4 separate regions of the Homo sapiens genome follow, and regions 1, 2 and 3 are each linked to region 4. The links come from fine-mapping of genetic effects on gene expression. A gene starts in region 4. Each other region holds a variant in brackets. All regions are shown on one strand. Distances are between the middles of the regions.

Region 1 (5,719 bases), 20 kb after region 4:
CACCTCTCCCAGCCTCGAATGCTTCATACTCATTATCTGCTTCTCTCCTCCTCTACCATGTCCATGGCAGCATCTGCACACAGTAGGGCTCCAGGCATACATTTTGCCTAAGCAGCTCTTCCCAGGGGAAGAAATGAGGCTCTGAAATGCATGAGGTCTGTTTTTTCTTTTTCTTCTTCTTCTTCTTCTTTTTTTTTTTTTTTTTTTTTGAGACGGAGTTTTGCTCTTGTTGCCCAGGCTTGAGTGCAATGGTACGATCTTGGCTCACTGCAACCTCCACCTCCCGGGTTCAAGCGATTCTCCTGCCTCAGCCTCTCGAATAGCTGGGATTATAGGCGTGCGCCACCATGCCCGGCTAATTTTGTATTTTTAGTAGAGGCAGGGTTTCACCATGTTGGTCAGGCTGGTCTCGAACTCCCTGCCTCAGGTGATCCGCCCGCCTCAGCCTCCTAAAGTGCTGGGATGACAGGCATGAGCACCGCGCCCGGCCGCCTGAGGTCTTTCTGCGGGCTGGAGGCAGTGCTTGCGGGGAGCAGGTGGCTTCCACGTTCTTGCTTTTAACCACCCCCAACCCGGGAGTCGGCCAGTCGGGGCGGGCTCGAGTCGGTCCCCGCGGCTGCTTCTTCCTCCCACCCCCGCATTCTCACCTCAGCCTCCAGAAATAGCCCCTTTAAAATAGCCACGTCCTCGAGTTCCGGGGCCTCTGCCTGCCCACGGACGTGGTGCTGCGCTGACGGGCCAGCCTCCTGAGTGCTGTGGGGTTTTTAAAAATATAGCTGGTGTTAGGTGATATTACCTCCCTTTTAAGCCTGAAAAAGCCCAGCCACCAACAGGGCTGTGTGTCACTGTGGATACTCCAGCAAGGCACGGCCGCGAGGGTGTCTGCTGTGCAGAGCTGGGGAGGGCTTCCGCTAAAGGCTCACGCCAGCTCAGGCGGGGACCGTGGGGCCTGCAGTTCCCTGTCAGGTCAGGAAACCTCAGATTTGAGGCTCAGTGCTGCCTCTTGCCGGCTGTGTGACCTCTGGCAACTGTTGAAACCTCTCTGAGCCTCAGTTTACCCAAATGGAAATGGGGACAATTTCAGGGTTTGGATAAATGGTTAAATTTCTCTGAGCCTCAGTTTATTTGTGAAATGGGGACATCTCAGGGTTTGGGCAAATAGCTGAACTCAGCCTCAGCTTACCTATGTGGAAATGAAGACAGTTTTGGGGCTTGGATAAATGGTTCTATTTCTCCAAGCCTCGGTTTACCTGTTTGTAAAATGAGGACATCTCAGGGCTTGGGCAAATAGCTGAACTTCCCAGCCTCAGTTTACCCATCTGGAAATGGAGACAATTTTGGCGCTTGGATAAATGGTTCTTTCTCTGAGCCTCAGTTTACCTGTTTGTAAAATGGGGACATCTCAGGGCTTGGGCAAATAGCTGAACTTCTCAGTCTCAGTTTACCTGTCTGGAAATGAGACATCTGAGGCTTCTCCACTCTGGGCCTGGCACACAGTGGGTACTCACGAGGCACGAGCCAAACTCCTTACAGCACTGAGGCCTCTACAAAATGACCCTGTAGTCGATCTGGGTCAGGGTTTAGTGAATTTAGCATTAGCTCTGAGCCTGCCACTTCTAGGCGGTAGATCCTTCAGGAAATCGCTTCCCCCTTGAGGGACTCAGTTTTCCTCATCCCTAAAATGGGCCCATGTCACTGGGTCGGGAGACATCAGGGAGATGAAGCATAGCTGCCCTTTTCCCCAGGTCGGAATGCTCCGTAGACGTGACTCACATTTCCCTGTTACCTTGATTTATTCTTTTTATTTTTCTTTGTTGAGACAGGGTCTTGCTCTGTTGCCCAGGCTGGAGTACAGTGGCATGATCATAGCTCACTGCAGCCTCAACCTCCCAGGCTCAGTTGACCCTCCTGCCTCAGCCCCCTGAGCAGCTGGGACTATAGGTGCACACCACCATGCCTGGCTAATTTTTTTGTTGTTGTTTAATTTTTTGTAGAGACAAGGTCTTGTTATGTTGTCCAGGCTGGTCTCGAACTCCTGGGCTGAAGTGGTCCTCCTGCCTCAGCCTCCCACAGTGCTGGGATTACAGGCATGAGCCAGCACCGGGCCCTTGTTTTATTCTTCTCATTCGTTGAGACTGTGTTGATTAGTGGCCAAAACCAGATTCTAGGGCCAGATGGCTCTGTCCCTTAGTAGCAATGACTCCACCTCTCTGGGCCTCAGTTTCCTCATCTGGAAAATGAGGATAATGATAACCTCAACCATCCAGGCTCCCTTGGGAGGATCTAGTGAGTTCATAGGGTGAAGCCCTCAAATCAGGGCTGGGCTCAGCATGAGGACAGTGTGACGATTGTAAAGAAATCCAGGCCGGACGTGGTGGCTCACGCCTGTAATCCCAGCACTT[T/C]GGGAGGCTGAGGTGAGCAGATCGCCTGAGGTCAGGAGTTCAAGACCAGCCTGATCAACATGGCGAAACCCCATCTTTACTAAAAAGATACAAAAATGAGAGCCCAGCATGGTGGCGTGCACCTGTAATCCCAGCTACTTGGGAGGCTGAGGCAGGAGAATCGTTTGAGGCAGAGTTTGCAGTGAGCCAAGATCACACCACTGCACTCCAGCCTGGGGGACAGAGCGAACTCCGTCTCAATTAAAAAAGAAAAAATCCATTTATTTGCTAGATGTTTATCAGGCTTGTCCCTACACTGGCCACTTCCCGGGAGCCGGATAAGCCAAGTGGATGGTGCTTGTGTCAGCCTGTGTGTTTGGCTTCAAGGTCCGTGTACCCCCTCTCCCACTGGGGCAGGGATTAAACCTGCCGGAGGGACCTGTCCAGCCAAGGCCACGGGCACTGGCTGCCGCCCCTGCTTCCTGCTGTGTCACAACAGGTGTTGAGCCGCCGGATGGCAGAGGGCAGGGGCCTGGCTTGCCAACAGGGACAGGAAGGCCCCGGCTGGAGTAGGCGTGGAGGCTTCCGCCGTCAGCCTCCGGGGTCTCAGCGGCTGCTTTGGCCGCAGCCACTGCCTCCGATTTTGCGCTTTCCATCATCTGGGGGGATTTCTCAGATGCCTCCTGTCCACCAGGCTCTGTGCCGGGACCCTGAAGCAATAAAGGGGATGGCTTTGTGGATCAGGGAGAGAGATGATAGGCAAAATACGATATATAGCACGTCAGGGGTGATCAGAGAAAGCAGTAAAGGAACAAAGGGGACTCGGGAGGGAGGCATGAGGGTTGTCATTTTTAATGGGGCTGTAGGGACGGCTTCATTGAGGAGGTGATGTTTGAGCAAAGCCCTGATGGAGGTGAGGAGGAACCAAGCAGATAACGTGGGGGAAGAGCATTCCAGGCAGACGGCACAGCGTGTGCCAAGGCCCCGGGGCAGGACCACGCCTGGCGTGTTGGAGGAACAGCGAGGAGGCCTGTGTGGCTGGAGCCCAGTGAGTGATGGGGAGGGGAGAGGAGGCAATAGGTCATGTAGGGTCTTGTGGGCTGCAGGGAGAACCCTGGGCTTTGAGCCCTAGAGAGGTGGGAGCTATGGAGGGCTGTGGGCAGAGGAGGGACAGGACCTGACTCAGATACTCATGGTTGATGCCAGGGATGGACCAGGTGAAGGCAAAGGTGGGTGGTGGGGAGAAGAAGCAAGTGGATTTGGGATAGCTTTTTAAAAAAAAAAAAAAAAAAAAGACAAGGTCTGGCTCTGTCGTCCAGGCTGGACTGCAGTGGTGCAGTGCAATCTTAGCTCACTGCAACCTCCACCTCCTGGGCTCAAGTGATCCTTCTACCTCAGCCTCCCAAGTAGCTGGAACTACAGGCGCACACCACCACGCATGGCTAATTTTTTAATTTTTAGTAGTGATGGGTTTTGCCATGTTGGTCAGGCTGGTCTCGAGCTCCTGACCTCGGGTGATCTGCCCACCTTGGCTTCCCAAAGTGCTGGGATCCCAGATGTGAGCCACTGCGCCCGGCCTTGGGATGGCTTTTGAAGGTAGAGTATCCCTCCTTTTTTTCTTTCCATGTCTGGGGTTAGTGGCCAGGCTGAGCTGATGCTTTCTCTTCGATCCTTCCATTAGAAGTTTCCAGAACTCAGAATTTCAGGGACAAATATGGAGGGGAGGGCAGGCCAGGCCCTTGCCCTCCAGGGACTCACTGTCTGTTAAATGGAGAATACAAACAGATCAAGAGATTGCAGTGTGGGCCTCTCACTTAGCAATTCAAGGGGAATAGGGTGCTAGACACCCTGACAGCCTAGGCCAGGAAAAACTTTTTTAAAAATAACATCAGCTGGGCCCAATGGCTCATGCCTGTAATCCCAGCACTTTGGGAGGTTGAGACGGGAGGATCACTTGAGCCCAGGAGTTTGAGGCTGCAGTGAGCTGTGATCTCACCATTGTACTCCAGTCTGGGTGACAGAGCGAGACCCTGTCTTTCAAAATAAAAACAAATAATAACAACCACCACCAAGATAATATCTGCAGTCTATCAGCTGCTTCTCAGGTGGTGTGAACAGCTCTGTGTGCCTTTCGATTCAGTCTTCACAGCAGCCATGTGAGGGGAGGAAGAGACTTTTATACCCATTTTACAGATGAGGAAACTGAGGCCTAGAGAGTCGAGTCACCTGCCCAGGGTCACACAGCATGGCCAGACTGCCTTGCTGTTGGACCTAGCTGGGGTGCAGCCTGTTCTGTCCTGTCCTCATTCCGTCTCGCAGCATTTCACGGTCATCATTCCATCATTTCTTCTTCTTCTTTTTTTTTTTTTTGAGACAGTCTCACCTTGTTGCCCAGGCTGGAATGCAGTGGCACAATCTTGCTCACTGCAACCTCCGCCTCCTGGGTTCAAGCGATTTTCCTGCCTCAGCCTCTAGAGTAGCTGGGACTACAGGCAAGCGCCACCACACTTGGCTAATTTTCATTTTTTTTTTTTTTGGAGACGGAGTCTCGCTCTGTTGCCTAGGCTGGAGTGCAGTGGCGTGATCTCGGCTCACTGCAACCTCCACCTCCTAGGTTCACGTCACTCTCCTGCCTCAGCCTCCTGAGTAGCTGGGACTACAGGCACCTGCCACCATGCCCAGCTAATTTTTTGTATTTTTAGTAGAGACGGGGTTTCACCGTGTGAAGCAGGATGGTCTCGATCTCCTGACCTCATGGTCCGCCCGCCTCGGCATCCCAACGTGCTGGGATTGCAGGCGTGAGCCACTGCGCCTGGCCTAATTTTCATATTTTTAATGGAGACGGGGTTTCACCATGTTGGCCAGGGTGGTCCCGAACTCCTGAGTGCAGGTGATCCACCTGTCTCAGCCTCAGTGCTGGGATTACAGGCATGAACCACTGCACCTGGCCCCTTACTAATTTCTAGGTGGGCCACACACCCCACCCTCTTACTTTAAAGATCTATGTGAGTTTGGGTTCTCTTATTTGAGATGTTTGCTTGGGCCCTGCCCTGCCCTGTCCTATTTTAGGAAAATTTGTGCTGTCAGTAGCCACCTGGACCAGTGGAAAATCTAGGATTCTGTTAGTCCTGGATTCAAATCCTGCCGTCACCTCTTTCCTAGCTGTGTGATTTTGCGGCCATTGCCCAACCTCTCTGATTGCTCATTTCCTGTGCAATGTTTTGTGTTTTTTGTTTTTGAGACAGTCTTGCTCTGTCTCCCAGTCTGGGGTGCAGTGGCACAATCTCGACTCACTGCAACCTCCACCTCCCAGGTTCAAGTGATTCTCCTGCCTCAGC
Region 2 (5,719 bases), 75 kb after region 4:
GAAGCAGCACACTTTTTCTCCAGACCACCAGGAAGTAAATATTTTTGGCTCTACAGGCTGGACGGTCTCTGTCGCAGCAACAACCCAAAACTCTGCCATTGTGTTGGAAAAGCTGAGAAACGAATGGGCGTGGCTGTGTGCCAATAAAACTTTATTTAATTAATTAATTAATTTATTTATTTATTTATTTTGAGATGGAGTCTTGCTCTGTCGCCCAGGCTGGAGTGCAGTGGCGCGATCTCTGCTCACTGCAAAGTCCGCCTCCCGGCTTCACGCCATTCTCCTGCCTCAGCCTCCCGAGTAGCTGGGACTACAGGTGCCCGTCACCAAGCCCGGCTAATCTTCTTTGTAGTTTAGTAGAGACGGGGTTTCACCATGTTCACCAGGATGGTCTCGATCTCCTGACCTCGTGATCCACCTGCCTCGGCCTCTCAAAGTGCTGGGATTATAGGCGTGACCCACTGTGCCCGGCTGATAAAACTTTATTAATAAATACAGCTACAGGGCTGTTTTTGCGGCCCTTTACCCCCTCCACTCCAGCATTCCTACCAGATGCAGAGGAGCTGCCTATTTCTTGGTCTTAACAGCACTGCGATTTGTCACTTTTTTGTCACTTGTCCGTTGGAGTGGAGTTGGGGGGGCGGGGGGGCACGGTTATTAGTCTGCCCTACGTGGCTGTTTCCTAATCTCTTTTTTTTTTTTTTTTGAGACAGTCTTGCTCTGTCGCCCAGGCTGGAGTGCAGTAGCATGATCTCAGCTCACTGCAACCTCCACCTCCTGGGTTTAAGCGATTCTTCTGCCTCAGCCTCCCAAGGAACTGGGATTACAGGCGTCCGCCACCATGCCTGGCTAATTTCTGTATTTTTAGTAGAGACGGGGTTTCACCATGTTGGCCAGGCTGGTCTCGAACTCCTGACCTCAGGTGATCCACCTGCTTCGTCCTCCCAAAGTGCTGGGATTACAGGTGTGAGCCCCCACGGCCGGCCCATCTTGGTTTGTAGAGCACCCTGGATGCAAGGCAGCCCGTCACTTAGCTGGCTCACCTCATCACCTCAGCCCAGAAGCATGTTCCCACCGCTCAGGGAGCTCTGGGACCAGGAGATTCCAGGGACCTGAGTTTCTCCTCCTTGTCCCCGCTCCCCCCCGCCCCCACATCACCACCGGTCTCCATTTACCATGGAGGGGAGCCAGAACCTCACCACCCAAGAGGGATACCGAGCGCTGGAGACCTGGTGCCACTCACTCACCTGGTGCTGGAGGATTGAGTGCTCAACCAGGATTGAGTTGTTTGTTCATTGATTGAGCTCCTACTGTATGCCCGGTTCTGCGCTGGGTGCTACGGATGCTGTGGTGACACAGATGCACCGTTACAGATAGAATTCCCTGCTGCAGAGGAGAGTGAGGAGTGTGGGGGCATTTAGAGCAAGGGAGTTGGAGCTAGTCCCAGGTGGTGTTCCGATCAGTAGACAGATGTGGGAACGGGGATTCCAGGCTGAGGGAACAGAACAGGTGACCCGAGGGAGGGGGCTTGATGACTTTGAGAGCCGTGGAGGCCAGGGTGACTGGGCCAGAGAGAAAAAGAGGAGGGAAGGTGGCAGGGGCCAGCAGCGGGCAAGCAGGCAGGGTTCCTTCTGAGGGTGGCCGGACCACAGAAGGGTGTACAGCGGGGGAGCAGTGTGGTTTATGTTTAGAAAGGCAGGTGGGGCTGTGGCTCACACCTGTAATCCAGGCACTTTGGGAGGCCACGGCAGGTGGATGATGAGGTCAGGAGTTCGAGACCAGCCTGGCCAACATGGCAAAACCCCTTCTCTACTAAAAGTACAAAAATTAGCCGGGCGTGGAGTGCATGCCACTGCCTTCCAGCCTGGCCGACGAGTGAGACTCCATCTCAAAAAAAATAAATAAATAAAAAATAAAAACGGTGTCCTCTGGGCCAGGCACAGTGGCTCATACCTGTAAAATACCTGTAATCCCAATGCTTTGGGAGGTCAAGGTGGGAGGATTCCTTGAGCCCAGGAGGTCGAGACCAATCTGGGCAACATGGTGAGACCCTATCTCTATATTTTATTTATTTTATTTTTATTTTTAGTTTGATTTTTTTTGAGACCGAGTCTCACTCTGTCGCCCAGGCTAGAGTGCAGTGGCGTGATCTTGGCTCACCACAACCTCCGTCTCCCGGGTTCAAGTGATTTTTCTGCCTCAGTCTCCCGGGTAGCTGGGATTACAAGCATGCACCATCATGCCCGGCTAGTTTTTGTTTTTAATGGAGACAGTGTTTCACCATGTGGGCCAGGCTGGGTCTTAAACTCCTAGCCTTAAGTGATCCACCTGTCTCGGCCTCCCAAAGTGCTGGGATTACAGGCATGAGCCACCGCGTCCAGCTGATTTATATGTATATATCTCTCTGTTTAAAAATTTTTTAAAAGATAAAAAGAAAGGCGTCCTCAGGCTGCTGTAAATGAACCCACTCAGCACTGTGGACCTTGGGGCCAGGTTTGTGCTTATATGTAGTAGGGTGTAGAGCATCTCTCAGCCCCACCCAGTCCATTCCAGGAGCACCCACCCCCAAGTCCTGACCCCCAAGTTGTGACAACCTCAGATATCCCCAGACATCGCCCAGTGTCTCCCAGGGCAGCAGAGTCACCCCCCAGTGAGAAATATCATTCTACCTGGCTCAGCTCCCTGACACCAGCCTCCCCCTTGTACAGAAGAGGGACCCAACCAGGTGCAGTGGCTCATGCCTGCAATCCCAGTGCTTTGGGAGGCAGAAGTGGGAGGATTGCTTGGGGCCAGGAGTTTGAGACCCGCCTGGACAACACAGCGAGACCCCCTCTCTACAAAAATTTTAAAAATTAGCCAGGCGTGGTGGCGCATGCTTGTAGTCCCGGCTACTCAGGAGGCTGAGGCAGGAGGATCACTTGAGCCCAGGTTGTTGAGACTGCGGTGAGCTATGATCG[A/T]GCCACTGTACTCCAGCCTGGGCAACAGAGCAAGACCCTGTCTCAAAAAAAGAGAGAGAACTGGCTGTAAAGGATGGCACCCATGGCTGAGGTCACGCAGCCAGGGAGGAGCTGGACCCGTGGCCAGGCAGTCCCTGAGCCCCAGGCTCAGGAGTGGCTGTGCAGTGCTCAGAACCATGCCCATTTCTCTCACGTCTCTGCCCTCAGAGGACCAGCTGCCCTCTGGCTTCCCCAACATCGACATGGGCCCACAGTTGAAGGTGGTGGAGCGGACACGGACAGCCACCATGCTCTGTGCAGCCAGCGGCAACCCTGACCCTGAGATCACCTGGTTCAAGGACTTCCTGCCTGTGGATCCTAGTGCCAGCAATGGACGCATCAAACAGCTGCGATCAGGTGAGTGAGGGTGGCTGACAGGACGTGGGAGCCTTGGAGGGCAGCAGGGGGTGGGGAGCATCTCCAGGGCCCAAGTTCTGGGGACTACTGGAGGACAGACAGAGACAGTGTGTGGCCGTGGCAGGCGTTGGCTCTGGGGGAGTGGGGGCAAATGTCTTCAAAGCCGCACACTGAGGATATTAGGGGGCACAGATGGGCATGAGTACTGGAGAGCTATAGAGGGTGGTAGAAGAATAGTGCTTCAACACCTGGCCAATGAAGATATAATGGATGCAGACATGCACAAGGATGGGGAGTTATATAGGGCCATGGGCGGGGAGAGTGTCTCCCATGCTCAGGCAGTGAGATCACAGCTGTCACCCACAGACAGTTGTGGGTGATAGGAAGCCACTGAGGGGGCTGGGCGCAGTGGCTTATGCCTGTAATCCGAGCTCTTTGGGAGGCCAAGGCAGAAGGCTTGCTTGAGGCCAGGAGTTTGAGACCAGCATGGGCAATGTAGCAAGACGCTCATCTCTGAAAAGAAAGAAAGCCGCCAAGGATGGTGGGTATCGGCAGTGCCCAAGCAATGGGAGACAGACAGGCAGAAGTGTCAGTGAGCCATGGAGGGTGACAAGGGGAGACCAGCTTCAATGGGTATGTAATAGGGAGCTATGGAAGGTGGCAGAGAGCATCCTCTACAGAAGCATTAGGCACGTCCAGTGAGAATACAGTGGGGCCCAGACAGGCAGGAGTAGTGGAAGCTGTGTAAGGCAATGGCAGGTGTCCAGAGGTGACAAGTAAGGTGATGGGGAGCCATAGAAAACTACAGGGAGAGAGTCTCTCCAAGGCTGAGCAGTAAGAGGTGATGGCGGGGCTTCAGGTCTGTAAGGGGGCACAGACGGGCAGTCCAGCCTGTCTGTTCAGGCCCTGGCTGGGCTAGGGAGACCTTGGGACAGAGCCTTGGAGACGGGTGGTTCCACCATTGTGTCTCCACAAAGCACCCACATGGCCCATCTGTGGGTCCATCTGTCTGGGGGGCTGTGTCTGCGTGTGTGTTGTCCCCCCGCTTCACGACATGTCCACGTGTGCATGTCTGGGCTCCCTGTGCCGGCCTGGCCTGCCTCCCGCCTGTGGGCACAGGTGTGCAGGCCTGGCTGCTGTCACACACGGGCCTCCCTTCCCCCGCCCGGAGCAAAGTGTCCGCCTGCATCTCGGCCACACGTGCACCCACATTGCAGTCACTCCCGTGCCTGTGCACACAGGGCAGTGATCCGCGCACGCGCCTCTCAGCCTGCACCTCCCTAGTGCTCGTGCGTGGGGACACACGTGGTGGGGATGTGTCTCCATACATTGGGAGCACACGTGTGGCTGCACATGCGTGTTTGTCTGTGTCACGGATTTACTGTTTTCAGTTGTGCCGGGCTTGACGCCCTGCCTTCGTTCAGGTCACTGTTGAGATCACCCTGCACCTCCACACACCCCTCTTTTTGCTTTCTCTCTCCCCTTCCTCCGAGGATCCCGCCACGGAGCCCCCTTTGCAGCAGTACCTCCCCGAATCATCCCCAGCGCCCCTCACTCACTGCCCATCGTTGCCCCCCACCAAAGAGCCTACCTACCTGTTCTCCGCTTTCTGCTCCTCCTCCTTAGTGAAAACCAAGCCCCAAAAAGATCAGACGTGGAGCCCAGAATGTCTTCCTTGGAGAGACTCAGACCTCACACTGGGGGGACAAATCGCCTCCTATCTCCCAGCCTGGCTGAGGATGTTTGCAGCTCATAGGCCTCTGCAAGCAGGGGGAGCGGTGGCCTCAGTTTCCCCATAAAACATGCCTATTTTCCTTGTGTTCTGGTGACCTCTCCAGGATGGAATGTCTAGCGCCTGCTAGGTGCTCAGTGAACATAAGCCACTTTAGGAATCATAAGAAATGTTGTTATTATTATTCTGAGCGTCCCCCTCCCCTCCCCCGCCCTCCCCTCCTCGCTGAGGACATAGGATTCTTTGTAACCACCCGTTAACGTTCCTGTTCTCTTTTCTTATCCTCCTGTTGTAAACGTTCAGAAACCTTTGGTAAGTCTGATTTCATCACCACGTCAACAACTAACGCCCCATCCCCTTTGTGCCCCTTCTGCTCCCCTTCTCCTCACCAAACTAACAGCCACCGTGATGGTAACTGTGACCCACTCTGCCTGGTATGTTTACTAACGCCCTCTCCCTCCTCCCCGCGACCGGCCCCTCAGCCCTCCCCAGCTGGCACTAGTGTGCGGCAGAGAAAGAAACCCAAAGGAAAAGAGGAAAAGAGACAAGTCCACCCAAAGGAAAAGAGGAAAAGAGACAAGGCCAGGCAGACCTCAAAATGCAGGCTGAGGGGGGTTCAGAGGCATCCTCGGGC
Region 3 (5,719 bases), 31 kb after region 4:
CCAGTAGCTGGGACTACAGGTGCCTGCCACCCCGCCCGGCTAATTTTTTGTATTTTTAGTAGAGACGGGGTTTCACCATGTTAGCCAGGATGGTCTCGATCTCCTGACCTCGTGATCCACCCACCTCAGCCTCCCAAAGTGCTGGGATTACAGGCGTGAGCCACCGCACCCGGCCCAAGGGATGCACATTTCAATATTCACTCCCTCTCGCCCAGTTACCCTGCAGAGAGCATCTGCCATCTCCACCCCAGCCGCCAGCCAGGGAGCTCGGGTCTCCCCTGAACAGCTTTGATGAGACAGGAATGTTCTTTTTCTTTCCTTGGCTGCTCCCAAGATACTTATATCCCCACCCCCAGCCTCCACCCAGGGGATGGTTTCAGGTCTAAAATTTTCCTTCAGACCCCAAGGAAAGCTTCTGTGTGTTCAGAAAACAACCGTCGTGTCCTTTCTGGGCCCAGGACCCTGCTGGGGGCCTAGAGCTCCATCACTGGATACTTATTGAGCACCTCCTATATACCAGGCCCTGATCCTCACAGGGTCAGGTGTTGGGAACAGAGTGACGGAGAAGACAGAGGGAAAAACCCTTCCCTCGTGGAATGCATCAGAAGGACAATGAACAAATAGGGGCCGGGCGCAGTGGCTCAGCCTATAATCCCAGCACTTTAGGAGGCCAAGACGGGCAGATCGCCTGAGGTCAGGAGTTCGAGACCAGCCTGGCCAACATGGTGAAATCTCATCTCTACTAAAAATACAAAAGGCTGGGCACAGTGGCTCATGCCTGTAATCCCAGCACTTCGGGAGGCCGAGTCAGGTGGATCACGAGGTCAGGAGATCGAGACCATCCTGGCCAACAGGGTAAAACCCCGTCTCTACTTAAATAAAAAAAATTAGCTGGGCGTGGTGGCATGCACCTATAGTCCCAGCTACTCGGGAGGCTGAGGCAGGGGAATCGCTTGAACCAGGGAGGCAGAGGTTGCAGTGAGATCACGCCACTGCACGCCAGTCTGGAGACAAAGTGAGACTTGGTTTCATAATAATAATAATAAATAAAAATACAAAAATTAGCCGGGTGTGGTGGTACAAGCCTATAGTCCCAGCTACTCAGGAGGCTGAGGTGGGAGGATCACTTGAGCTGAGGAGTTCAAGGCTGCAGTGAGCTGAGATTGCGTCACTGCACTCCAGCCTGGGTGACAGAGTGAGACCCTGCCTCAAAAAACAAAAACAAGAAACACCCAAAAAACAAAAGCCATAAAGCCAATAGATTAAATATGTGTTAAGGATTGACTGTATGCCATGCCTTTAAGAAAAATAAAGTTGGCCAGGCGCAGTGGCTCATGCCTGCAATTTTAGCACTTTGGGAGGCCGAGGTGGGCAGATCACTTGAGGTCAGGAGTTTGAAACCAGCCTGGCCAACATGGTGAAACCCTGTCTCTACTAAAAATACAAAAATTAGCTGGGTATGGTGGTGGGCGCCTGTAATCCCAGCTACTCGGTAGGCTGAGGCAGGAGAATTGCTTGAACGGGGGAAGCGGAGGTTGTAGTGAGCCGAGATTGCGCCACTGCAGTCCAGCCTGGGTGATAGAGTAAGACTCCATCTCAAAAAAAAAAAAAAAAAGAAAAGAAAAAAGCTAGAGGAATTGGTTGGTGGCAGGGAGGGGCTGTTTTAGCTACAGAATCAAGACAGGCCTCACAGAAGAGGTGACATTTCAGTAAGACCAACAGGAATAAGAGAATGATGTTTGCTGACATCTGAGGGGAGGGTGTTCCAGGCAGAGGGCACAGCCCGTGCAAAGGCCCTGAGGCAGGACCGCACCTGGCATGTTGGAGGAACAGCGAGGAGGCCTGTGTGGCTGGAGCAGAGTGAGGAGGGGGAGGAGGGGAGGGGAGAGCAGGGAGAGGACAGAGCAGGTTGTGCAGGCCCTTGTGGGGCACCAGGAGGACTTGGGCGTTTACTCTGAGGGAGGTGGGAGCCAGGGAGGGCTATGGGCAAAGGAGGAACCAGCCCTGACCGACGTGTTCACAGGCGACCCCTGGCTGTTGCAGAAAGGACAGACTGTGGGGGATGAGTGCAGACGCTGGGGGACCAGAGCAGAGGGGACGGCACAGATCCAGGCCAGGGATGATGGGGGTGGACCAGGCAGGGGCAGAGGAGGGGTTGTATTCTAGAAGGATTTTGCAGAAGGGTTGGCTGGCTTCTCCAAGTGGTTGGCTGCAGGGTAGGGTTGAGATGAGTCAAGAACGACTCCCAGGCCTCTGTCCTGAACATCGGTAAAGACGGAGAAGATGAGCTGAGGTGGCGAAGATGGTGAGAGAGGCAGGCATGGAAACGCCCCCATTAGCAGGACGCCTGCGGAGGTTCCCAGGAAGTGGTGGGCTGGTTCTCCCTGGAGACATGGAGTTGGCAGCTCCTGACTTAGCCCATAGCGGGTTTTCAGGTGCTACAAGCAAGCCATTGGCTCTGGACAAGGCACATCCTATCCTCAGCCTCAGTTTCCCCATCTGAGATAAATAACTGGCACAACAAAACGAGTTAATATGCGTCAAGCACTTAGAGAGTGGCCTGCATAGACAGGGCCCTGGGAGGGGCTGTGGGCTAC[A/G]CACTTGGGGCTGGATGGGGCTAGAGGTTAGGACAGGAAGGGAGGTCTAATTTGCAGACCAGGGGGCTGAAGCCCAGAGAGGTTAAGGCACTTGCCCAAGGCCACACAGCACGTGGCACAGGCTCAACCCCACTAAGGGGCCTGCACACTCTGCTCACCACCAGAGCCAGCCAACCCCCCCTTCCTCCCTTCTCTCTCCACCCCCGGAGCTGCCAGCTCCAGTTTTTGGTGGTTTCCAGGCTCCCCTCAGTTCCCACTTGGCACTCACCTCCCACCTCCACACACTCTGAGCCCAGGGCCTAGTGCCAGGCAGGCTGTAGGGCCAGGGGGTCTTGGTGAGCATCCTCCACTTCTACACCCAGGGTTCCTTTTGCCTCCCTGCCCCGTACCCCACCCGTGCTCCTGGTAATGAAGGGAGAGGAACGGGAGGGAGCGAGCAAAATTATATACACACGAACATACAAAAATTAGTTTAGGATCCGGGCCAAGAACCACTTGCGCTTGGCCAGGCATTGTGGGTAATTCATTGCTGATTACCATAAAAGCCATAGCCTGGCTGACAGGCGGCTGCGGGGCTTTTGTTTAAGATTCTGATGAATATATAATCTCTCTCCCCGCCTGGAGCCCACAGTTCCCCTACCCCCAAGGCTGCCAGGTCCCTGCCCACCCTGCTCTCTTCCCCCACTGCTGAACGTGAGTCTGCAGGTTCCCCGAGGGGCTGGCAGCCACCTCTGCCGCATGGAGTCTGCCCCTGTGACTGCGTCGGTGAAGCTTGGCTTGGCACTCGATGCTCACCACCAGCCACAACTAGCCCAGGCCTTGCACTGTGGCTGCTGCCCTGGGCCTGATTCCCTCTCTTCCGTGTGGATGTACTGGGCTTCAGCTGTTTGCTTGGCCCCATGCTGGGACTGGGGACACTATAGTGACTGATGCAGACAATCCTTGCCCTTAAGGAGTCTGGGGGGACGATGGATGATTAGACGGGCATTTATCTATAGTTAAAGAGTTCCCATCTCCTGCCCAGGAGATGCAAATTAAAACAAGATATCATTTCTCACCCATCCATTTAGCAAAACTGTTTGAAGTGTGGTATTATCCAGGGTGGCAGCGTCGAGGGGAACCAGGCCCTCCGGGCGTGGCTGGCAGGAGAAGAAATCGGCATCTCTGTGACACCACGTCTTTTATTTTTAATATGTTGTTCTGGCCAGAGAATGCGTACACATGGGATACAATTGAGGATGCAGAGAAAAATGCATGGTGGAGAATCTCCAGATCCTCTCCCCTCTCTCTTTCCCCAGTAGCAGTCTCTTCCCAGAACAGGGTCAGTAGAGTTTTTCCATAAAGGACCACCTTGTAAATCTTTCCAGCTTTGCCGGCCGGATGATCTCTGTCTACTACTCAACCCCGCCATTGGAGCGTGAAAGCAGCCATAGACAAACACGTAAACTGGTGGGCGTGGCTATGTGCCAATAAAGCTTTATTTATAAAAACAAACGGTGGGCCGGATTTGGCCCCCGATATGGCGATGATAAAAATGGTCTCCGTCTACGCACCGTGGTACAGTCGCCCTGAGCCGAATGTGGCTATTGAGCGTTTGAAATGTGTCCAGTGCAACCGAGGAACTGAATTTTAAATTTTATTCCATTTTATTCCGTTTAAATTTAAACAGCCACATACGGCTCGTGGCTACGGTTTTGAAGAGCGCAGTTTATCTAGAAATCTTCTGTGAACATTTAGTAGGCGGCTGGATTTATATTCCCTTGTTTAACCAAATGGCAGCATCTTCTACATGCTGTTCTGTACCTTGTTTTCTTCCCCCCCACTTAAAAATATAGTATCTTAAAAGTAATTTTATAATTGTACATCTGGTATTCTCATTCCTTTTCACAGCTGTGATACTGATCTCATAACACTAAGAGATACTGATCTCATAACACTAAGATACTAATCTCTTCGATCATTATTTGACCTCTTGTACTGTTATTTTTATTTATTTATTCATTCATTCATTTATGTATTTATATTTTTGAAATGGAGTTTCGCTTTTATTGGCCAGGCTAGAGTGCAATGGCATGATCTCAGCTCACTATAGCCTCTGCCTCCTGAGTTCAAGCAATTCTCCTGCCTCAGCATCCCGAGTTGCTGGGATTACAGGTGCCGGCCACCACACCTGGCTAATTTTTTTTGTATTTTTAGTAGAGACAGAGTTTTGCCATGTTGGCCAGGCTGGTCTCGAATTCTTGACCTCAGGTGATCTTCCTGCCTCAGCCTCCCAAAGTGCTGGGATTGCAGGCGTGAGCCACTGTGCCTGGCCCCCTTGTACTGTTCTTTACTTAACCAATCTCCTATCGATAGACATTCAGGTTGCTTCAAGCCTTTTGCCGTGAGTACTTTCTCCACGTGTCATTTCACGGGAAAGTGTCTGCCGGGTAGATTTCTAGAGGTGGTGTTATCAGGCCTAAAGGGAATGTATAAACTTAACTTCGGAAGATAATAGCCAATTGTCTCCTCGGGGACTATTAGGACCTACTCATTTCCGACTGTGTAGGAGGGGAACCTGCTTGTTTAGAACAAGCTGTAACCCGACCTTCCACCCCAGCTGCCCTTCACTGGACACCAGTGAGAGACAAAAATGCTTCCCCAAGGGGACCTGGGAGATGTCAGCATGGAGATTCACCATGGCATTGGGTGAGGTTGGGAAAAAATGGAGGCAACCGAAGTGTCCACAGGGAATTGGGTGATAAACGCCCAAGGCACAGCCTTGCCACGGAAGATCCTACCACAGGCGAGAAGAGGCCTGGGCTGCGTGTGCTCAGTAGTTACAAGTCATGTGAGGAACAGCCATGATTCGAACAGAATATCATTTTCACATACAAAAAAAAAATCACCCTGGGCCAGGTGTGGTAGTTCATGCCTGTAATCCCAGCACTTTGGGAGGCCGAGGCCAGCGTATCACTTGAGGTCAGGAGCATGAGACCAGCCTGGCCAACATGGTGAAACCCCGTCTCTACTAAAAATACAAAAATTAGCCAGGCGTGGTGGCGCACGCCTGTGATCCCAGCTACTCGGGAGGCTGAGGCAGGAGAATGACTGGAACCCAGGAAGCGGAGGTTGCAGTGAGC
Region 4 (5,719 bases):
ATGAGCCACCGCGCCCAGCTGCTACAATGTATTTTAATTCTGTTTTTGATGTATTTAATCTGTTTTCTTTGACTGCTCACAAAATCCCTCAGAGGTACTAGTGGTTGTCCCCCTTTTCTAGATGGGGACAGCTAGGCTTACAGTGTTGCGGCCACTTGTTTGAGGTCACCTCCCAAACAGGTCACTGGGCTGGGGTTCGTGCCATGATCAGCCCCTCCACGATCAGCCATCTCATTTTACTGTGTCTCCACCAATTCTCCAAGGCTTCAGCACCCACTGTGCGTGAGAAACCACGCTAAGCATTTGTGCACAGACCACCCCATTTGATCCTTCAAGATGGGATCGTGTTCCCATTGCTTGGATGAGAAAACTGAGGCCAGATTGTAAACGGTCAGATCAGGGTCACCCCACCAGGAAGAAAAACAAAGTAGGCTCTGCAAACGTGGCTGCTGCACTGGCCGCTGGGAAACTCCAAGCTTAAATTAGGTTCCTTGTTAAATTATTCATTATCTCCTCTCTTTTCTCCTGTTTATGACTTCCGCCTTATCGTTTTGTTCCCCGGGTTAATGCTTTTTGTTTATCTGCATCTGTGGCCTGGAATGAATGAATCAACAATTTTGGAGGAAAAAAAAAACCAATTCTAAAGTTGAGTTCCTCTGTTGGGCACCAGGCCTTCTCCAAATATGTGCCTTGAGGAAATAAATGCTTTCGACATGATCAAAACACAAGGACTGATGTGCAATCTTGCTTGGTGGCTGTGAGCCCTCCAACCCCCTTACCTTTGTCAATATCCCCCTTTTATTTACTTCCGCTCTGTTTTTTTTCCTTATTTTTGAGAGTCTCACTCTGTCGCCCAGGCTAGAGTGTGCAGTGGTGTGATATTGGTTCACTGCAACCTCCGCCTCCCGGGTTCAAGAGTTTCTCCTGCCTCAGCCTCCCAACTAGCTGAGACTACAGGCACCTGCCACCACGCTCGGCTAATTTTTGTATTTTTAGTAGAGATGGGGTTTCGCCATGTCGGCCAGCCTGGTCTCGAACTCCTGACAAGTGATCTGCCCACCTTGGCTTCCCAAAGTGCTGGGATTACAGGCATGAGTCACCGGGCCCGGCCTCTTTTCTCTTATTATTCCATCTTCAGGCACCAATGGCAGCCAGGCTGCCACATTATAGCAATTCATCATCACACCCTCCTTAGGAGCAGGGGCTACCTTGCCCCATTTTACAGATGAGAGCTGAGATCCAGAGGCAAATCCATTCTACAGATGGGGAAAGTGAGGCTCCGGGCCTCACACAGCAAATCAGTGTTTTAGCTGGGTTCCAACTGTGGCTCGTCCTGACTCCAGGGAAGCAGGGGATGGTAATTAGGTGAGACCTGTGTAAAGTGCTTACTCTATAAGAAGTGCTCCATCATCCATTCATTCATGTGTTCAACCTACAATAGGGATCTCTGGAGCCACACTGTAGTGTAACTAGAATAAAAACGGGATAATGGGACCAGGCGCGGTGGCTCACGCCTGTAATCCCAGCACTTTGGGAGGCCGAGGTGGACGGATCACTGAGGTCAGGAGTTCAAGACCAGCCTGGCCAACATGGTGAAACACTGTCTCTAACAAAAATACAAAAATTAGCCAGGCGTGGTGACAGCACGCCTGTAATTCCAGCTACTCCGGAGGCTGAGACAGGAGAATAGCTTGAATCCAGGAGGCGGAGGTTACAGTGAGCCGCGATCACGCCACTGCATTCCAGCCTGGGCGACAGAGTGAGACTCCGACTCAAAACCAAACAAACAACAACAACAACAACAAACCGGGATAATGGGATAGAGTGGAGTGGGGCGTGGCTGGTAGCTGTTGTCAGGGAGGGCTTCTCCCAGGCGCTGCTTATTTGAGCAGAAATTGGAAAGATGAGAAGGGGAAGTTCTTGGATGCTCAAGTTAGAGGAACTGTAAGAAGCTGGCTGAGGCGGGAGGATCACCCGAGCCCAACTACTCAGGAGGCTGAGGCGGGAGGATCACCTGAGCCCAGGAGTTTGAAGCTGCAGTGAGCTATGATCATACCACTGTACTGAGGCCCAGGTGGCAGACCCCATCTCTGAAAAAGCAAAGAAGGAGCAGCTGGTTTTTCTGGATCATTGACATGGTGGGGGGGAGGGGACAGGGTAGTGGGCGCTAATGTGAAACGGCGAGCTGCAGAGAGGAGGCGGGATTTTATTCCAAGGGTACTGGGGAGCCGTGGCACAGTTTAGGGCAGCGCACAGAAAGTGCCATGCCCTTTGCACCCAGGACGCTGGGGCTCCCGCACGGACAGTAGCCCCAGGGGCCCTTCCCGCCGCCGCCGCAGCCGCCACCACCACCACCACCCCAGCCGCCCACGTGTCCCGCGAAGCCCCGCGCCCCACGTGCTCCCGCGGCCCTTTAAACACCCCGGAGCCACGTGACCGCGCTGCGCCGTCCCATTGGCCGGGGGGCGTGGCGGCCGCGCGGCTGCGCAGTGACGCGCACGGGCCGGCCCTGCCCCCGACCCGGCGGCGGCGGCGGCGGCGCTGGCGGAAGGGATGACGTCACCGGCTGGGGGGGCGCGCGAGCGGGAGCTAGGGGAGCGCGAGCCGCAGTGAGTGTCCTCGCGCCGCCCGCCCGGCAGCCCGGCCGGCGCGCGCACGCCGCGAGCCGCTGGCGCTCGGGCTCCGCTCGGATCCCATGCAACAGCCACGATGTGAAGCGGGGCAGAGCCGGGGGAGCCCAGCCCAGCCAGCCTCCAGGTAAAGCCAAAAAAAAAAATAAAATCATGGATTAGAGGAAAAAAAAATGCAGGCGCTCCAAGGGGGGTCTCGGAGGCAGCCGAGTGGGCAGCGCGCCGGCTTTGTGCCGGGGAAGCCTGCACGGCCATTGTGCTCGGAGGATGCTCGGCTGCAGCCAGTTGCACGCCCAGCCGCTGCGCCCCGGTAGCTGCGCCCGGACAATGCCCCGAGGGACAGGGCCGGGGCCGCGCTGGGGGCGCTCGGCAGGGGGTGCTGGGGGGGCTTCGTCCGCGGCGTGGGAGGGGGCTGGGCTGGAAGCGCCCAGAGCGCGGCATTGGAAGCTGCCCAGCGCCGCCGGCTGCACCACCCCGGGCTGCGGGCGGGGCAGAGGCGCGGAGGGGGGCGCGCGTGTGTGCGGAGCCGGTGCCGGCCCCGGCGGCGCCCGGCCCGGGTCCCCGGGCGGGTCCTGGAGGCAGGGGGCGCTGTGCCGGGGGATGGGGGGCATGCGGGCGCCCCGGAGCGGAGAGGAGCCGGGACGGGTGGCTCCAGGCGGGGTGGCTCCAGGGCTGCTGCGCCCGCCGCCTTCCCTCTCCGGGTCTCCCTCCCCTGGAGACCCCCTAGTCTACGCCGTCTCCCCTGGAACACTCCGGGCCCTGTCGTTGCCTTATGGGAGGTCGCCCCTCCGGCACTCGGGCATTGCCCCACCCTTCTGCGGCCTCGGCGCCCCCTTCCAGCCTCCCCACCCAGGGGCGAGCCTCAGCCCCCAGCCCCAGGGGCTCTGGCAGGCAGACGCGCACGCCCAGCACCCCAGTCTCCCCTCCGCGCTGGGGGCCCCGTGGGGATCCCGAGAGTGGGGAAGCCGCCCCTGGAACCGCCAGCCCCGCGGGTTCCGCACGCCCCGGGAGCCCCCGGGGGCTGCGGGGGGAGGGGAGGTGACGTCATACCGGGGGCGGGGCCGTCGGCACTGGGTTAAAGGGGGCGCGGGGCGTGCCCTGAGGGGAGCCCCCCAGGTTAGAGTGCCCGCGCCGTGGGTGCGAGGGTTCGGCCAGGTTGCGGCCAAGTTCACCTCTCTTTATGGGAATCTCTCCTAAAATTAAGATCCTCCCCTTCGGACCTCCCCCTACAAATCCTGGACATTTCCCACCAATTCCCCCCCTTCCCAAATTGGGGAACTCCCCTTCGGCCGCTTTCTCTCCAGAATCCTCAAATCAGGGAACCTTTCCCACAAACTGGGAATCTTTTTTTCAGCCACACCCCCCGCCCCAAATCTGGGACCTCCTTCTTCGGTTGACCCTCTTTCCCCAGTCTCAAATCGTCTTCTCGTCTCCCTAAATATGCAGCTTCCAAGAACGCCCCTTCCTCTGCAACCCTTCCTCAAATCCAGCCACCTCCTGGGACCTCATTCCCCCAAATTAACAAACCTCCCAGAGCCTCATTGGGGGTGCCTTGCCTCCCCCTTCTGGGCTCAGCTGGGATTCCCCTGTCCCCCCCCGTCACAATCTAGGGGAGCCCCCTTCTGAGCATGGGGTCCTCCTGCCTCTGGCCGAGACCCTAAAAACACATCCCGGCAGCCGCGGCTAGTGAAGCGGGTGTCCGAGGTGTCGGAGTCCCGGCTGAGCAGCAGGGATGATACCTAGAAGCCGGAGGAGGCAGGAAGAGACCCCTAGGGTCCCAAGGACAGGGACCCACACGCTCCGGGCTCCCGTCCGCCACCACCCGGACTTTGGCTGCTGGGATTCTGGCCTCCTCTGGGTGGCCCCCTATCGCTGCTGTCCTTGGGGTGCAGAGGGTGACGGCGCCTCTTTGTCTGGGGCGCCCTTCTTCCCTCTTTCTGCCGCCTTTCGCCCGGGAGAAGGAAGCCATCCCGCTCCTCTGCTCCTGCGATACCAGCGGCAGCTGCTGGAGCGTTTATTAATGGCCCAGGGACTTGGTCGAATCTGCCATTTGCATAAGTCCCCTCCCCCTCCCAGGGTCCCTTCCTTTGTGCCCCCCTCCCCCTGCCAATCGCGCCTGCCTTCTGTCCCTCTGCTCTTCTTTCTTTGCCAGCTGATATTTTGGCGGTGGAAGGCAGGCAGCTGGGGCTGGGGGCGGCTGCTTCCCGCCCTCAAATCCCACAGCCCCCCAGCTTGGGCCTGACTGAGTCCCCACCTGGGCATCCCTCCCCTACCCCCCCGCTGCCCTCCACAAAGCCTTCCGTGGGGCATCTCTTTCTGGCTGGCAGGCTGGCGGAGTCTTCATTATTTCCCTCCGGGAAGCAGGGTCCTGCCCTGTTCCCCAGGCCCGGGGGACACCCTCATCATGACGGTGCACTTCTGCATGGGGGCTAGGCCTCCCAGCCCCCTGGGGGCCACCGCCCGCCATACTCCATCATCCTGAGAGTTGTTCTAATTGGGCTCAGGCAAACAAAACGTCGCAGGAGACCCAGGCTGCCTGGTGAGCTCACGCACTTTTCTATTTCTGCCACCCTGGCCGATGACATTGCCCCTAACCCCCCAGGGGGTGACAGAGACTGGTACTGTCAGTGGCCGTCCAGAGATGCCGTCCCAAGAGGCGGTGGACTGGCCCGCTCCCCACTCCCCGCGGGAGATGGGTGACAGGTCATTTTGGCGTGGCCCGGCTGAGGCGCTGGAGGGTGCTACTGGTTGGCAGGTCAGCTCCGGGGACGATTTCCCCCTCTCCAGGAAACCTTGAGAGCCTCTGAAGTCTGCGTGAGGTGGCGACAGAGAAGGGGACATTCAAACCCCAGGTTCCTGCCTGCTGCCAGCAGAGAAAAAAAAATCACTCCTTATACCCCGGTTGAGCGTTCAGTGCGCCTTTTTTCCCTGCCTCCCAGGGGATTTCAGGCATCGTCCAGTGTCCATGGACCCTGCTTGGAGACACAAGTCCATTTTCCCCCAATTTCCACCATGGAACAGGGGGAAGCTTCGTGGATGCCAGGGATTTCGTGGTAGCATCTGGGTGGGGAGACCTGGAGCCATCACTG

What was found. PIP is the estimated chance that this variant, and not a neighbour inherited with it, causes the effect. A credible set is the group of variants that fine-mapping cannot tell apart.
Region 1: its variant is the best candidate, but not a certain one, in a credible set for the expression of PTPRS in skeletal muscle (GTEx, PIP 0.87).
Region 2: its variant is the best candidate, but not a certain one, in a credible set for the expression of PTPRS in whole blood (INTERVAL, PIP 0.58).
Region 3: its variant is the best candidate, but not a certain one, in a credible set for the expression of PTPRS in fibroblasts (GTEx, PIP 0.89).

The regions. Positions count from the first base shown.
Region 1 is chr19:5,317,370-5,323,088 of GRCh38, reverse strand. All of the region lies in intron 1 of PTPRS (protein tyrosine phosphatase receptor type S), which reads left to right. Among named protein-coding and RNA genes, the nearest start is that of PTPRS, 21 kb to the left of the region's middle. RefSeq lists enhancers at 605-874, 2,398-2,897, 2,898-3,399. The variant T/C (reference allele first, on the strand shown) is at 2,403.
Region 2 is chr19:5,262,642-5,268,360 of GRCh38, reverse strand. It overlaps PTPRS (protein tyrosine phosphatase receptor type S), which reads left to right. Exons shown (of 38, transcript NM_002850.4): 5 at 3,165-3,353; 6 at 5,389-5,397. Among named protein-coding and RNA genes, the nearest start is that of PTPRS, 75 kb to the left of the region's middle. The variant A/T (reference allele first, on the strand shown) is at 2,958.
Region 3 is chr19:5,306,215-5,311,933 of GRCh38, reverse strand. All of the region lies in intron 1 of PTPRS (protein tyrosine phosphatase receptor type S), which reads left to right. Among named protein-coding and RNA genes, the nearest start is that of PTPRS, 32 kb to the left of the region's middle. The variant A/G (reference allele first, on the strand shown) is at 2,598.
Region 4 is chr19:5,337,702-5,343,420 of GRCh38, reverse strand. It overlaps PTPRS (protein tyrosine phosphatase receptor type S), which reads left to right and starts at 2,609. Exons shown (of 38, transcript NM_002850.4): 1 at 2,609-2,757. LOC105372252 (a long non-coding RNA gene) reads right to left here. Exons shown (of 5, transcript XR_936279.3): 5 at 5,355-5,719. RefSeq lists a silencer at 2,402-2,681 and an enhancer at 4,548-5,221.